Linked DNA regions of Homo sapiens: region 1 is reported to be linked to region 2. Evidence: microRNA targets listed by miRTarBase, many of them from high-throughput screens and not tested one by one. Region 2 holds a microRNA gene; the other region holds the end of a gene's coding sequence.
Evidence for each region. The annotated mature microRNA hsa-miR-27b-3p reads UUCACAGUGGCUAAGUUCUGC and lies in region 2 at 3,741-3,761, shown strand. An mRNA with a match to its seed (bases 2 to 7 or 8) in the 3' UTR can be bound and repressed. Matches are read on the target gene's strand: a 7mer-m8 pairs with bases 2 to 8, a 7mer-A1 pairs with bases 2 to 7 and ends in A, and an 8mer does both.

Region 1 (5,622 bases), not on the chromosome of region 2:
GTAATACAGCAGTGAACAAGTAGTCCCTGCCCCTGAGGACGCGACATTCTAGTGGGGAGGCAGATTGCTGTCAACATAAGAATTAAGTACATTTTAATGTTAGGTGGTGATGATAAATGTCATGGAAAAAGTCGAGCAAGGTAGGGAGGATGGGGTAGTTGGAGGTGGGGTGTGGATTGCAACAGCAGTGGTCAGGGAGGATCTCACAGAGAAGGCAACTTTTGAGCAGAGACATGAAGGAGGGGAGTGAGCCATGGGGACACCAGGGGAGTGTTCAGGCAGAGGGAACAGCTAGTGCAAAGCTCCTATGGATGAAGCAGACCAGACTTGGTAGAGCAGCTAGGAGGCCAGTGTGGCTGGAGCAGAGTGGCCAAGGGGGAGGGTAAGCGATGGGTGCCAGATTGTGTGGGCTGTGGGGAGGACTTCGGACTTTGACTTTTATGTGACCTGACTCAGGTCTCATAACAGGCTTCCTTTGGTTGTCTCGTGGGGGAGTGGAGAAAGGAGAGACTGAAGGCAGGGGCTAGAGCAGAGACTGGGGCTGGGGCTGCTATGAAGATGCAAATGGCAGACGATGTTGGCTAGGACCAGGGTGGGGGTCATGGTGGGGGCAGGTGGATAGTGGATCTATTTTGCAGGTGGATCAGACAGGATTGCTGTTGGACTGGGGTGTGGATTTGAGAACAAGGTGTCAAGGGATACTCCTGGGTGTCTGGCTTAAGCCCTGGTAGATGGTGAGAAGTGCCGTTTTCTTATATGAGGGATTTTTTGGGGAAGGGGCAGAGAATCAGATCTGGCTAAAGGAAGGACCAGAGATGTTGTTCTTTCAGTCTCCAAGACTGTTTCTGCAAATGTCTCTTCACTGCTTGCTCTTGGTCTCTGCCCCTCTGCTGCCTTTGCATCTCAGGGGTTCTGACTCCCTCTCGCCTGATCCTCTTCTACTTATTAGGGCCTGAGCCCTTTCCCACAAGGGAAGCAGTTTCCTGGAAGAGGAGACCAAATGTCAGTGAGCAAGGGGAGTGGGCCAAGGAGGCCTGAGAGCAGGAGGGAGGCTTGAGGAGGGTAGAGAGAAGGGAGAGGAGGGAAAGGGGCTTCAGAGGGAGAGAGAAGAGGAGAAGGAGTAAGGCTAGGGGGAGGAGGGGAAGAGGACAATGGGGAGTGGGAGGGCAAGGAAAGGGTGGAGAGGGAAAGAAGGACGGAAAAAGGGAGAGAAGGGAGACGGGAAGGAGGAGAAAGGGGGTAAGAGACGGCAGGATGGGGAGGCTGGAAGTGGGAGAGGAGTAATGAGGGAGGGGACAAATTGGAGGGGGAGAGAAGAACAGAAGGCAAAGGGTGTAGGGCGGGGCAGAAGGGTGCAGAGGAGGAAGTGAAAAAGAGGAGGAAGGGTGAGGGTAGGGAAAGGAGAGAAGAGGGAAGTGAGAGGGAGGAGGGAGGAGTGCGGGGCAAGGAGAAAAAAGAGGGGTCGCAGGGGGCGAAGGCTGGGCGGCAGGGCCGAGCCGCAGGCGCTGACGCAGGGCGGCTTCCGGGCGCGGGGCCCCGGGGTTGGTCCCGACGACGCTGGCCTTGTATGGTCTGAAGACGCGGCTCCCCCGGGGCCCCTCCTAGACGCGCGGCCCCTACCCACACGCCCTGGCCTCGCGGGGCCGACCCTGGTCGGTGTGCGAAGCCTCGGACTTCCAAGGTTCGGAAATGCCAAGACCCGGTAATTCCCGGGCTCCAGGGTCCCGGGTGGCCAGAAATCTGCAACTCCGAGCCACCAGGGGTCTAGAGTCTAAAGCGCTAGGGGATGCAACCTGTGACTCCCAAATGTTGAGATCCTAGCCTCTTGAGACCCTAAACCCGCTTCCCCAACATCCAGAAGGTGTCGAAGCCCCCCCGGAACCTCTAGTCCCGAAACGGGTTCCGCTACCCCAGGCTGCCCCGCCCCGCGCCCGCCCCCGCTCGCTCTGGGCGCGCGCCCCAGCACATTCCGTCCTCCCCACCCGGCCCCTCCCGCCTCCCGCGGCCCCGTGGGGACGGAAACATCCCGTCCCCGACCGCACCCGCCCGAAGCTGGGTCAAGGAGCCCAGCAGGACGGGAGCGCGGCGCCCCCGACGCCCGGGAACTGGCTCCCCCGGTTCCCATCTGGTGACCTCACCTGGTCCCACCCTTTCAGGTGAACGGCCAGGCCCGGTGACGTCACTTCCTGCCAGGTAAGCGCCGCGGGGCTCGGAGAGGAAGAGTTAACTGCACCCAGCTTCCAAAAAGTCACCCCCTCCCTCTCCATTCCTGTCTCTAGACCGCGAAGAAGCCAGGATCCCAGCTTACACTCAGATTGTTTATTTAAAAATGCCCAAAACACAAAAATAGACTTTTAAGGTAATAATATATATTACTAAATATATTATAGTCTACTTATAATAATTATATCGTCGTTTTCAATATTACAAAAAAAGGAAGAAAAATACAAGGGAAGCAGACGACCCAATATATATAAATACTATAAAATCATATTAGAATAAATAAAGTCGTCATAAATAAAGGGCCCATTGATTTATGGGTGGGGTTTGGCAACGGCTTTGGCTACTTGCTTTTGGAGGGTAATTTGAGCACCAGGATTCCCCCTCAGGAGAGGTTCCAGTTACCAGGAGACACTGGAACCTCAGGTCTATAAAAACTGGAGGGGCAGTGAAGGCCTATTATTCACAGCACATAAGATTCTAGGAGACAGATTTGGGCAGGGAAGAGGTGGGGGAGAGGGTTCATTGCCTCCCTTAAATATGCTACAATTTTTTTTCCCCCAAGAACCTCGGAAGACACTCCATCCCCCACCATCATGAATACTGAGCTTGCACACTTGGGGACCTGCCCCAGCGTGAGGTCAGGGGAGTGGGTTAATGCATTCTGGAAAAGGGGATTACTTGATTACTGTCCCCCAAGTCCCCACAGCCCTGGGGTCCATGCAGAGACCACAGTGCAAGAGACGTGGCTCCCCGCTGAGATCCAGCTGATCTGACCGGGCAGTCACTTTGTCACTCAGAAACAGAGATGCGATTGAAGATGGGGAGTCGCCGGGGGGCTGCCACGGGCTGGGGTGGTGCAAAAACTCCCGCCTCGAAGACGGGAGAGTCAGAGCCCCCCAGGCTGCTGCCGCTGCTGGCATATTCATCAGGGTCGGATCCCAGGGACTGTACAGAGGGGGTCCGAACCAGGCCACCCAAGGGCCCCCAGACGCTGATAGGAGTGGCCCTTCGGCAGGAGGGGCAACAGACTGGGGTGGGGTCTCTTCGAGCCAGGGGGGTGCCAGGGGCAGCAGAGAAGGCAGAGGGTGACAGTGGAAGGTCCCCAGGTGGTGGTGGGGAGCTGGAGGGCGAGAAGGAGCTGGAGGACAGGGAAGGGCCGGCCAGGCCTGGTGGTGGTGGTGAGGTCCGGCGGCCAGAGGGCAGGCCGGAGAAGCTGATGCTCTGGCGAAGCACAGGAGGGTGGCCCGGGGCCGCCAGGTCTTCGCTAGGGTTGTGGATGAAGTGGCAGCGAGAGCCGTAGGGGCAGCGGCCCTGGAGGTAGAACTTGTGACAGAGTTCCGTCTTGTATTTGGGGTGGCGATTGGCCTGGCGCAGCTCGCCCAGGCCATGGGCAAACTGGCACTTGGCCCCGTAGCGGCAGCGCCCACTCTCTGAGAAGGTCCGACATAGCTCAGTCTTGTAGCGCGAGGGGGTGGTGGAGGTTGCAGTGGGCGAAGTGGGTGAGGGTGACAGCTCAGGGCCCAGGCGGGGAGCCAGCGGTGCGAAGCCAGGGGGTGGGGGCACCCAGCCACAGCTGCGGCCCTCCACTAGGCTGGTGGAGCGGCCAGGCAGGCGGGAGGTGACCCCAGACGGGCTGGAGTCGGAGGGGCTCAGGCTCCAGGGTCCCGAGGAGCCCCAGCCTGGGCTGGACTCAGTCCCTCCATGGTCGGATGGCACGGGCACGTCAGGGCTCAGCGACAGGAGGCTCTGCGGAAATGGGTCGGTTAAGGCACCTGAAAATGCAGGGCGACGCCCCACCCCAGCTGCAGGGAACTAGAGCTTGCCAGGCCGGTTTGTGGGCTCCCCGCCTGAGCCCCACCCGCCCGCAGAAACCCCTGGGTTCCGGATGCCAGGAACCCAGAGTTGGAGGTTCTGAGTTTACCCACCACCGAGGCCTTATCCCGAGGGACCCAGGAATCCCGGCTTCCCCGGCTGGACCAAGAGGGGGACCCCGAAGTCAGGGCGCACCACTGTTTCCCAATTTTGGGTCTCTTGTCCTCCCCGGATATGACCCACGCGTCGGGATCTCCAGTTTCACAACTGGAGAAACCGGGCAAAGTTGACCTGGAAGTCCGGATTGCTTCGGTTTTAGGGTTCTCTGTCTCTACGGTCAGGGACTGGAGAGACAGAAGTCGGATCCCCCCACCCTGAGACTTCAGCCCCAGAGACGCCTCCGCGCAAAACCACGCCCTCAGCAACGACTAGGGGTGAGCCAGGTATGGGGGCCACTTCCGCCTCCAGGCAGCCTCGGTCTGAGAAAAGTTCTCCGACTTTCCACTTGCATGGGCCGCCCCACCCATGTTTGAGCGAAGAGCCGGGTGTCGCGGGTTCCATTTTCACCTCCAAATCACCAAGCTGGTCTGAGCGGGAGGCAGGGGCCCCAGGCTGGAGGGCGCGGCGCTAGGGAGCCCCAGTTGGAGAAGGGAGGCAAGCGTCCCGGGCTGGAGTTTGCGGCGCTAGAGAGGTGGGGACTCGGACTCAGGCATGCAGGTACCGGGGATGCCGTGCGGCGGGGACTCACCTCGTAGATGGCAGTCAGATCCATGGTGTAACGGTTGGCCATGAGGGGTGTCGGCCGAGAGTGGGAGCGCTGAAGTCAGGCTGAGGCTGGCACCGAGAGCCGGCTACTTATAGGAAACTGCAAGCACGGGGCGGGGCCGGGGCCGGGGCCGGGGGCGGGGCAGGAGGGGCGCTTCCCGGACGCGCGCCCCCGGCGCAGCCTGGCTGGCCCTGGACTGGTTCCCTTCCGCCCGGCCCTGGGCCAGGACGCGCCTGAGCTTGGCCGGTGGACAGCCGTGACCGAGCGGGGAATGCGTGGGGAAGGGGTGGGGGTGCGGATGGGGGGACGCCTGCCCAGTTTTCAAAGCTGGAGACTGAGGCTTGTAGAAGGAAACTGGGGCGGAGGTGGGGGCAGGGCCCCAGGGGCAATTGACAAGAGCAGAAGCCCGATGGGGGTGCGCGTGCGACACAGACGGATGGGGGCGGGGAGAGACGCAGAGGGGTACAGACAGGCAGACAGGCAGAGAGAAAAACATCGAGAGAGACACACACACCAAGAGACATACAGAGAGAGATAGACAGGGTGAGGAAGGGAGGGAAGACGGGGAGACAGAGACAGTCCCAGAGACAGATTCAGAGGGAGAAGAGGGTTGGGAGGATCACAAAAAGAAACAGAAAGGGGCTGAGCGCAGTGGCTCACACCTGTGATCCCAGCACTTTTTGTGTTTTTCTTTCCTTTTTCTTCTTCTTTTTTTTTTTTTTTGAAAGACGGGGTTTCCCTATGTTGCCCAGGCTAATCTCCAGCTCCGGGGCTCAAGCGATCCTCCCACCTCCGCCTCCCAAAGAGCTGGAATTACAGGT
Region 2 (7,579 bases):
CATGTCTGGACTTTTTTGGGAAAGCACTTTTGAACCCTTAACTACGAAGTTTTGCTCTTGCGATGTCTTTGAGACCCTTCTTTTAGTTTACTCCAGCGGAATGTAACTCGTGGCATAACTAAGCATGGCACAAGAGAGTAGACAGATCCAGATGGGCCCTTGGGTCTTCTAGAACGTCCTTGGCTATTTTAAAAATACAGGAAAAATGCAGATGTGAGTGTTTGCGGCATTGTTCCCAAGCAGCAGAGCCGGTGCGGGCTACGGTGCAGGGCTGTGGAGGAAAGGGCGCAGGCGGGGTGGGCGTCTCTGCGGGCATCGTGATGTGTCTCTGCCGCGGCTGCTGCCTGCTGTGCTCTTTGCTTCCCTGGCAGGTGAAGGACTTCCCGGATGAGCTCAGACCAGCTACTCCTAGGGACACACTTTGCGGGGCAGGAGTCCCGTGTCTGTAATGCCACACAGGCTCTCCGCGTGGTAATTCTGGGAACCATCTCTGTCTGTTCAGAGCGTTCCTGACACGGCCATCATGGTGGGAATGCCTGCTCATCGTTCTGTCACCAGTGAAATCGTCAGAGTCTGTGTAGAGAATTGGGAGCTGAGGATTCCTTGGGGTTTTGAGTACAAGGAGGAGACAGGGATTGCAGACTGCAGCTTCCAAAAGCACAGTCAGCCCACGGCCTCTGTCTTCTCTGGGGTCTTTGCAATTTCTAGACCAGCAAGTGTGTGTGGAACAAGCACAGACTGAGCTCATGTGTGCGTGTGTGTGGGTACCCACACCTTCGCCTGATGCCCTTTGGCCTCTGTGCCCTGCAGGCCATGGGTGTGTACCTCTACGGGGAGCTGATGGTGAGTGAGGACGCCAGACAGCAGCAGCTCGCCCGTAGGTGCTTCGAGCGGACCAAGGAGCAGATGGATAGGTCCTCAGCCCAGGTGGTGGCCGAAATGTTATTTTAACGAGGTGATTCTCTCCCTTTCCTTTCTGTCATTTAGTTCTAACCAGATACTCCTTTTAGGAGCCAACTAAATCAGTAAGCCGAATAGTTAGCCAAGACTACCCGCAGCATCAATAGTCGGCTCCCTGGCCCAGGGCCTGGAGAGTAACTGGCCAAGTGGGTGCTGGGCTGGTATGGGAGCCCCGGGTCCCTGGAGCACCTTGCCTGGCTGTGGCAGTCACCGGGAAGCAGAGGCTGTCCACCTGGAGGCACAGCGGCACTCCTTGGCACTATTTTGGCCACTTCAGGTTTTATAATCTGTTGAAACAAAAATTGTGGGGGAACATCTTGAGTAGGTTTAGAGATGGAATGGGAAGCCTGGCAGAAGCGCTGGTCCAGTCTTCAGGGTCACGGCTGATACAGGAGTTTAAGCGGCCGTGTGACTCCAAAGCCTAGCTTCTGCAAGCAGATGTTTTCTTCTAGCCATGTGTGAATTGGAGGTTCCTTGGGCTGTCCACGCCTGGTCATCGGCTGGCAGGAGGCTCTCCAGGCACACGCAGCACACACAGCACATGCACCACACGTAGCACACACACTGCATGCAGCACACACACACCAGAGGACGCACCACACAGAGCACGCACAGCACACACCACACAGCGCACGCACCACACAGAGCACACGCGGCACACACAGCACACACAGCGCACGCACCACGCAGAGCACACACGGCACATGCAGCATACACACCAAACAGCGCACGCACCACACAGAGCACACGCGGCACACGCAGCACACACACCACACAGAGCACCTGGAGCACCCACAGCACACACACCACGCAGAGTACACGCGGCACACACACCACACACAGCGCATGCACAACACAGAGCACACACAGCACATGCACCACACGTAGCGCGCACACTGCATGCAGCACACACACCACACACAGCGCGTGCACCACACAGAGCACCTGCGGCACACACAGCACACACCGCACGCACCACACAGAGCACATGTGGCACACACAGTGCACGCACCACACAGCACCCGCGGCGCACACAGCACACGTGGCATATGGCCTCCATGACCCTGTGTCTTGAGGGCAGGTCCTACTTTTTGCTTTGTTGTGTTGGAGCGGAATTTCTCCCCTGGCTTCTATTGGAGTCCTAGATTATTTAAATCACTTCCTCTGTTAATTGTGCCTGGAATTAACCTGTTAGATTTACTTCCTAGCAGTTAGTTGCTCAGTATGGGTTTCTACACTATTAAAGCAACCTAGCGGTAGTACACAAGGTTTTGTTAGGATAGCTGTGAGATTTTTTTTCTCTAACAATCATCATTATTTCTGTGTCTGCTCCGTTTTTCTTCAGTGTTTTATATGATATTAATAGGGGATGTCTAATTTTGTATCTTTAAAAAAACTTTATCAAATCTGAAGCATTTTTCGTGTTATAGCTTCTCTATAATTTTTCATGGATATTGAATATTTGGTGTTGATATTCTTCACTCAGTTTTGAACATTGAGTTTTCTTCTAATGTTTTGTGCTTATGAAAACCATTTCTGTGTAACGTGTTTAAGTAGCTTATTTATCTGAAAGAACTCTAATAATGAAAAGAAATAAAAAGTTTTTCAGAAGCATGATCATATTCTTCCAGAAGAGTCAGGAACCATGTGTGCCAGGAAAGGGAAACGGGACTGAGCGTCTCGTAGCGAAACGCCTGCTGCAGACTTGACGCGGCTCCCCTCCAGGACGGGCTGGCGGCACACAGACTGTGCACTTACCTCACTGCCGGCCTCATAATAGTAATCAGTGTAAATGGTGTTTCTCTTTCGTTTTGTTATTTCGTGGCGTACGTGTTAAAGTGTGTGAAACTACAAGGCCAGCTAGTCCTTTCATCATTCCCTTTGGTGCAGGTTTTGGAGCAGCACCACAGGGCACACCCCTCGCCACTCTTTATGGGGAATTTTTGCCCAGGCAGGCAAAGGAGTCATCTTGGTCACAAGTCTCCCTTTTCCCCCTCCCCAGCATCTTCGATCCTGTCCCCACCCCTCCAGATGCATCCAGGGGTTGCAAGCCTGCCCCCCAACCAGTCCCCGTGAGGAACAGTGGCCGGGATTGTCCCAGGGCCCCTTCCAGCAGGGGGACCTCCTGACTTGAGAGTCCCCAAAGCCTTCCCAGGGCAGCTAGAATCTGCCTGGAGAGAAGGGATCTTGTCCCCAAGGGTTAGAGGCAGTAAACTAATAGCAAGGACAGCTGCCTTTAGCAATTGTGTGTGTCGCATGGCCGGTCCCTGCATTTTTCTTCAGTTCCAAAGCTGCACTGGCATTTTTATGGTCATCTCTGGAGTCCCTTTGATTCAAGAAATTATACCTCTAGGATGCCAACTAAACGAACAACAAACAGAAACTCCACCTGTTTGCTAGCATAACAGGCGTGAAGGCGGCAGTGTCGCCGGCGTCCTTCCGCGGAAGCCCAGTGTGTGCAGACAGCACGGGGTGGCGCTGCTCTCAGGTGCTCTGGCTGCTTGGGTTCCTGGCATGCTGATTTGTGACTTAAGATTAAAATCACATTGCCAGGGATTACCACGCAACCACGACCTTGGCTGCTCCTCCAGAAACCGTGGTCGCGCTCACTGCAGATTGGAGAACAGGTGCATCTCGTAGCTCTTCTTTGGAAACAAAAGAAGCCACCAGCTGAGGAAGATGCTCACCGGTCACCGTCCCTTTATTTATGCCCAGCGATGACCTCTCTAACAAGGTGCAGAGCTTAGCTGATTGGTGAACAGTGATTGGTTTCCGCTTTGTTCACAGTGGCTAAGTTCTGCACCTGAAGAGAAGGTGAGATGGGGACAGTTAAGTTGGAGCCGCTGGGGCAGAGGCCGTTGCTGACGGGCCGGCCGCTGCTGCACAGTCAGCTTGGGTGCGGAGCGCGATCCTGGAGGATGAGAGACCACTTGACCCCAAGGATGCACTGTCTCCTGCTGGGAATGCTAGCCATGTACTGAGTCCTTAAGTCTGTCCACAGAAACATGCACTAATCGGACATCTGTCTGAAAGGTCAAATGTATTGAAAGTTGCAAAAATTCTTCTTACAAAAAACTAAAACCAAATGCATCACCTAAGTCGTGTGAAATCATGTGGTAGCTCATGGCTGTGAGCGGGGCGGGGCGGGGCTTTCGGAGGAGCTCCTGTTGTTCTGGGCGCGGTGAACTCTCTCTTGTATTTGCAGTCCAGGCCTTCGCGTCTCCTGCGCCAGCAGACGGTGCCCACGGAGCTCCCAGCTGAGGCGCTGCTTCTCCGGGCTGTCGATTGGACCCGCCCTCCGGTGCCTACTGAGCTGATATCAGTTCTCATTTTACACACTGGCTCAGTTCAGCAGGAACAGGAGTCGAGCCCTTGAGCAAAAAGCCTTCGTGTCTGTAAGTGCCCGAGGCTCAGGAGAGCTGGGGCTCCCACTCGCGGCAGACAGGCCCGCGTCCACCCTGCGTCCACCCCGGCCCGGCGGCAGCACGGTGCCAGTCATCTGCATGTGCTCCTGCGGCGTGGGGGTTTGTAGACTTGGAAAACCCTGTTGGCAGAAAGTTAAGAGCTCCCAGGCCTGAAGGCAGGACACAGTGCCAGCAGGGGGCCGTTTGCCCCCATGTGTAAGGGAGGCAGGGCCCAGCTCTCCCACGGCGAGGTGAGCTGAGACTTTCTGAGAACAGTTAGAGTGGGTGCGTGTCTGAAATGGGTACTCCTAGCAGCTATTGTGTACGCAAAGCCTGAGTACAGCCTGCTGGTGTCATGGCCACGTGTGAGCAGGCCAGCGTCACACGGCTCGCTGTGACCCGTCCCGGAGACTGAAATGGGCCTGGGTCTTCTCCTTGTCCTGTGATTAAAGTCCTCTCTTGAAAGTGGAGAGCAAAGGCACACAGAGGTGCGCGCTCACAAGAATTCCTCCCGGTGACTGGGTAATCAATGTTACTGCTGTTTCCTTTGCAGGAAAGACCACAGCAAGATTCTTTCATTCGTCTCCTCCTAGCCTGGGGGACCAGGCTCGAACTGACCCTGGACATCAAAGGAGGGATTATGTGGCTGCTAAAGCCATCGGCCCACAGCCCTGTTCACATCTTGGTGCTTCTCTTTCCCAGAGGCTGGTCCCAGCCAGGCACACACAAAAGGCAGATTCTCGTAAACGCAGCCTCCCTCCCTGGAGGCTGCCTCCTGCCCTGGATCTGGAGTGGAGCTGCTCTGAGATTTTGAGTTCTTCTGCAGAGATGATTAAATATATCCAAGAGACATTGGAAAACCTGCTGAACATTTTACATTGGTCTGCTCAGCACATGGCTGGATGCGGATATTTCTATAATTCCAGAAAGTCACACAGCTCCTCTGTATGAGACCAGTGGGCGCCATTTAAAAGAACAGGATGAGAATCTAAGATATATTATTAATAAATGTAATGGATTTTTTTTTTGTATACGTGTTTGCTTCTAAATTTCATACTGTTTAAAAATAATAAAGGCCAGGTGCGGTGGCTCATGCCTATAATCCCAGCACTTTGGGAGGCCGAGGTGGGTGGATCACGAGGTCAGGAGATCGAGACCATCCTGGCTAACATGGTGAAACCCTGTCTCTACTAAAATACAAAAAATTAGGCGGGCGTGGTGGTGGGCACCTGTAATCCCAGCTACTCGGGAGACTGAGGCAGGAGAATCGCTTGAACCCAGGAGGTGGCAGTTGCAGTGAGCCGAGATTGCGCCACTGCACTCCAGCCTGGGCGACAGAGCAAGACTCCATCTCAAAAAAAAAAAAAAAAAAAAAAAAAAAGCACGTACAAGAAAAAGGTATTCTCCACATTCTGGTGTTCCCCCCCCACCTCACTAGTTTCTTTGTTGTTTTCAAGGTAGTGTTAGTTCTCTTAGAAGCCTGAAAACAAAAGTAATTTGGCTGCGCGTGGGGCACCCTCTTCCGATAAAATGGAGAGCCTGGGCATATTCAGGCATCGTGGGAGTCTGGTGGTATGATTTTTCTTTCTCCACAAGGTTTAGGGTATAGACAGAAGCTGGGCACTGAGCTTCCTTGGCACTGTCCATGGGGCAGAATGTTTGAAAATGCCTGGAGAAGGCTGTAGGAACGGGTGCAGCCATGGGCCCTGTGCCAAGTTGGGCTGAGCATGAGTGCACCTGAACACACCCACAGTCTCCTCTGCCTGGCTCCAGGGGGCAGCACAAATTCTGGCCTGTTTGGGGTGAAGTGGGGCTCTACCATGGATCTCATTAGAAGCTCTGGACTGGGAGGCCTTGGTCTCCAGAACTCTCTTTTCTTGTCCCAGTGACTGATTCCAGAACGTTCTTAGGATTTGCTCTCTGCTGTCACATGCCTTTGCGTGGGACTGTATAGCTGGCTGTGCCATCGTGGAGGATGGCTCAGAACTTGACTGTTATGTTTGAATAAATACACGACCGCGGCTTCCTGTGGAGATTTAGAATGAACGATGCTTTCTCTCTGTGTGCTGCTGCCTTTTTTTTTTCCTTCCTTTCTTTTTTTTGACAGTTTCACTCTTGTTGCGCAGGCTGGAATGCAATGGCACGATCTCTGTACACTGCAACCTCCGCCTCCCGGGTTCAAGCGATTCTCCTGCCCCAGCCTCCCGAGTAGCTGGGATTACAGGCTCCCGCCACCATGCCCAGCTAATTTTGTATTTTTAGTGGAGATGGGGTTTCACCACGTTGGTCAGGCTGGTCTCGAACTCCCGACCTCACGTGATCCACCTGCCTCGGCCTCCCAAAGTGCCGGGATTATAGGCGTGAACCACTGTACCCGGCCTCTCTCTCTCTCTCTCTCTGCGCTTTCTAAGTGTGTTTGGCTTTCACTGAGGCAGAGCCAGGAAGGACCGTGGGAGTACCGGCCGCACTGCCCTGCGAGGCTCCCACTCCCACTGTGTGCAGATGCTTGGCACCTGGAGCTCTCAAGAGCTGCGGGTGGCTCACCGGCCCAGTGGTTTGGGGTGACCTTGCTTTTCCAAAAAGTGAAAGCCATGCTTTATCTTCTTTAGAAACCACTAAAGCAAAGCTGAACTGCTGAATAGGTGGGGTTCTGCACAAAGACCACTAATCCCCTGGCTCCTGTGAGTCACCGGGTCTTGTGACTTGCTTTGACCACCGGGGATCTGGCCAGTGGGTGGCATAAATTTGGTGGACCTCATCAGAACCGGACATTGCTGTCACGGATTTGACTGAGGTCCTGCCAGGAGTCGGCCTTTGCTGCCTCCAGACCTGGGGGCACCCTGCCCGTGCTGGGGCTGCCCCTGGAGGTGAGGGAGGGAGGAAGCCGGAGAGCAGCTCCGCCACTCTCTCCAGGCAGGAGGCTCCCCGAGGCTCTGCAACTGCCCTCGCCGGCATCCTTCACCCGTGCCTCAGCTGACTCTGAATGGGTTCTGCTAGCTGCTCCTCTGGCATCTCCTAAGAGACTTGAGAGAACCTCCACCCAGGGCCTGGCAGAGAGGCCTCTAGATTCCAGCCTGAGAGCAAACCGGGGTCTCGGGGTCAGTAGGAGACAGATGTGACCAGTACTCTTCCATTTTTAAGTGAAGTATCACATCAGAAACTAGCTCAGATCAAAGGGCGTGTGACAACTGAGGCTAGAACGCTCACTGCCTTAG

Region 1: miRTarBase lists ZFP36 as a target of hsa-miR-27b-3p. Seed matches in the 3' UTR shown: 7mer-A1 at 2,683-2,689.

The regions. Positions count from the first base shown.
Region 1 is chr19:39,406,090-39,411,711 of GRCh38, reverse strand. It overlaps ZFP36 (ZFP36 ring finger protein), which reads right to left and starts at 4,865. Exons shown (of 2, transcript NM_003407.5): 1 at 4,784-4,865; 2 at 2,305-3,969. The coding sequence starts at 4,807. The coding sequence ends at 3,013. It overlaps MIR4530 (microRNA 4530), which reads left to right and starts at 2,034; the gene lies at 2,034-2,089. RefSeq lists enhancers at 12-101, 1,684-2,274, 2,537-3,174, 3,175-3,813, 3,814-4,451 and 1 more and silencers at 1,302-1,621, 1,972-2,031, 4,822-5,271.
Region 2 is chr9:95,081,765-95,089,343 of GRCh38, forward strand. It overlaps MIR27B (microRNA 27b), which reads left to right and starts at 3,681; the gene lies at 3,681-3,777. It overlaps AOPEP (aminopeptidase O (putative)), which reads left to right. Exons shown (of 17, transcript NM_001193329.3): 16 at 811-955; 17 at 4,918-5,395. The coding sequence ends at 951. It overlaps MIR23B (microRNA 23b), which reads left to right and starts at 3,444; the gene lies at 3,444-3,540. MIR3074 (microRNA 3074) reads right to left here and starts at 4,330; the gene lies at 4,250-4,330. It also overlaps MIR24-1.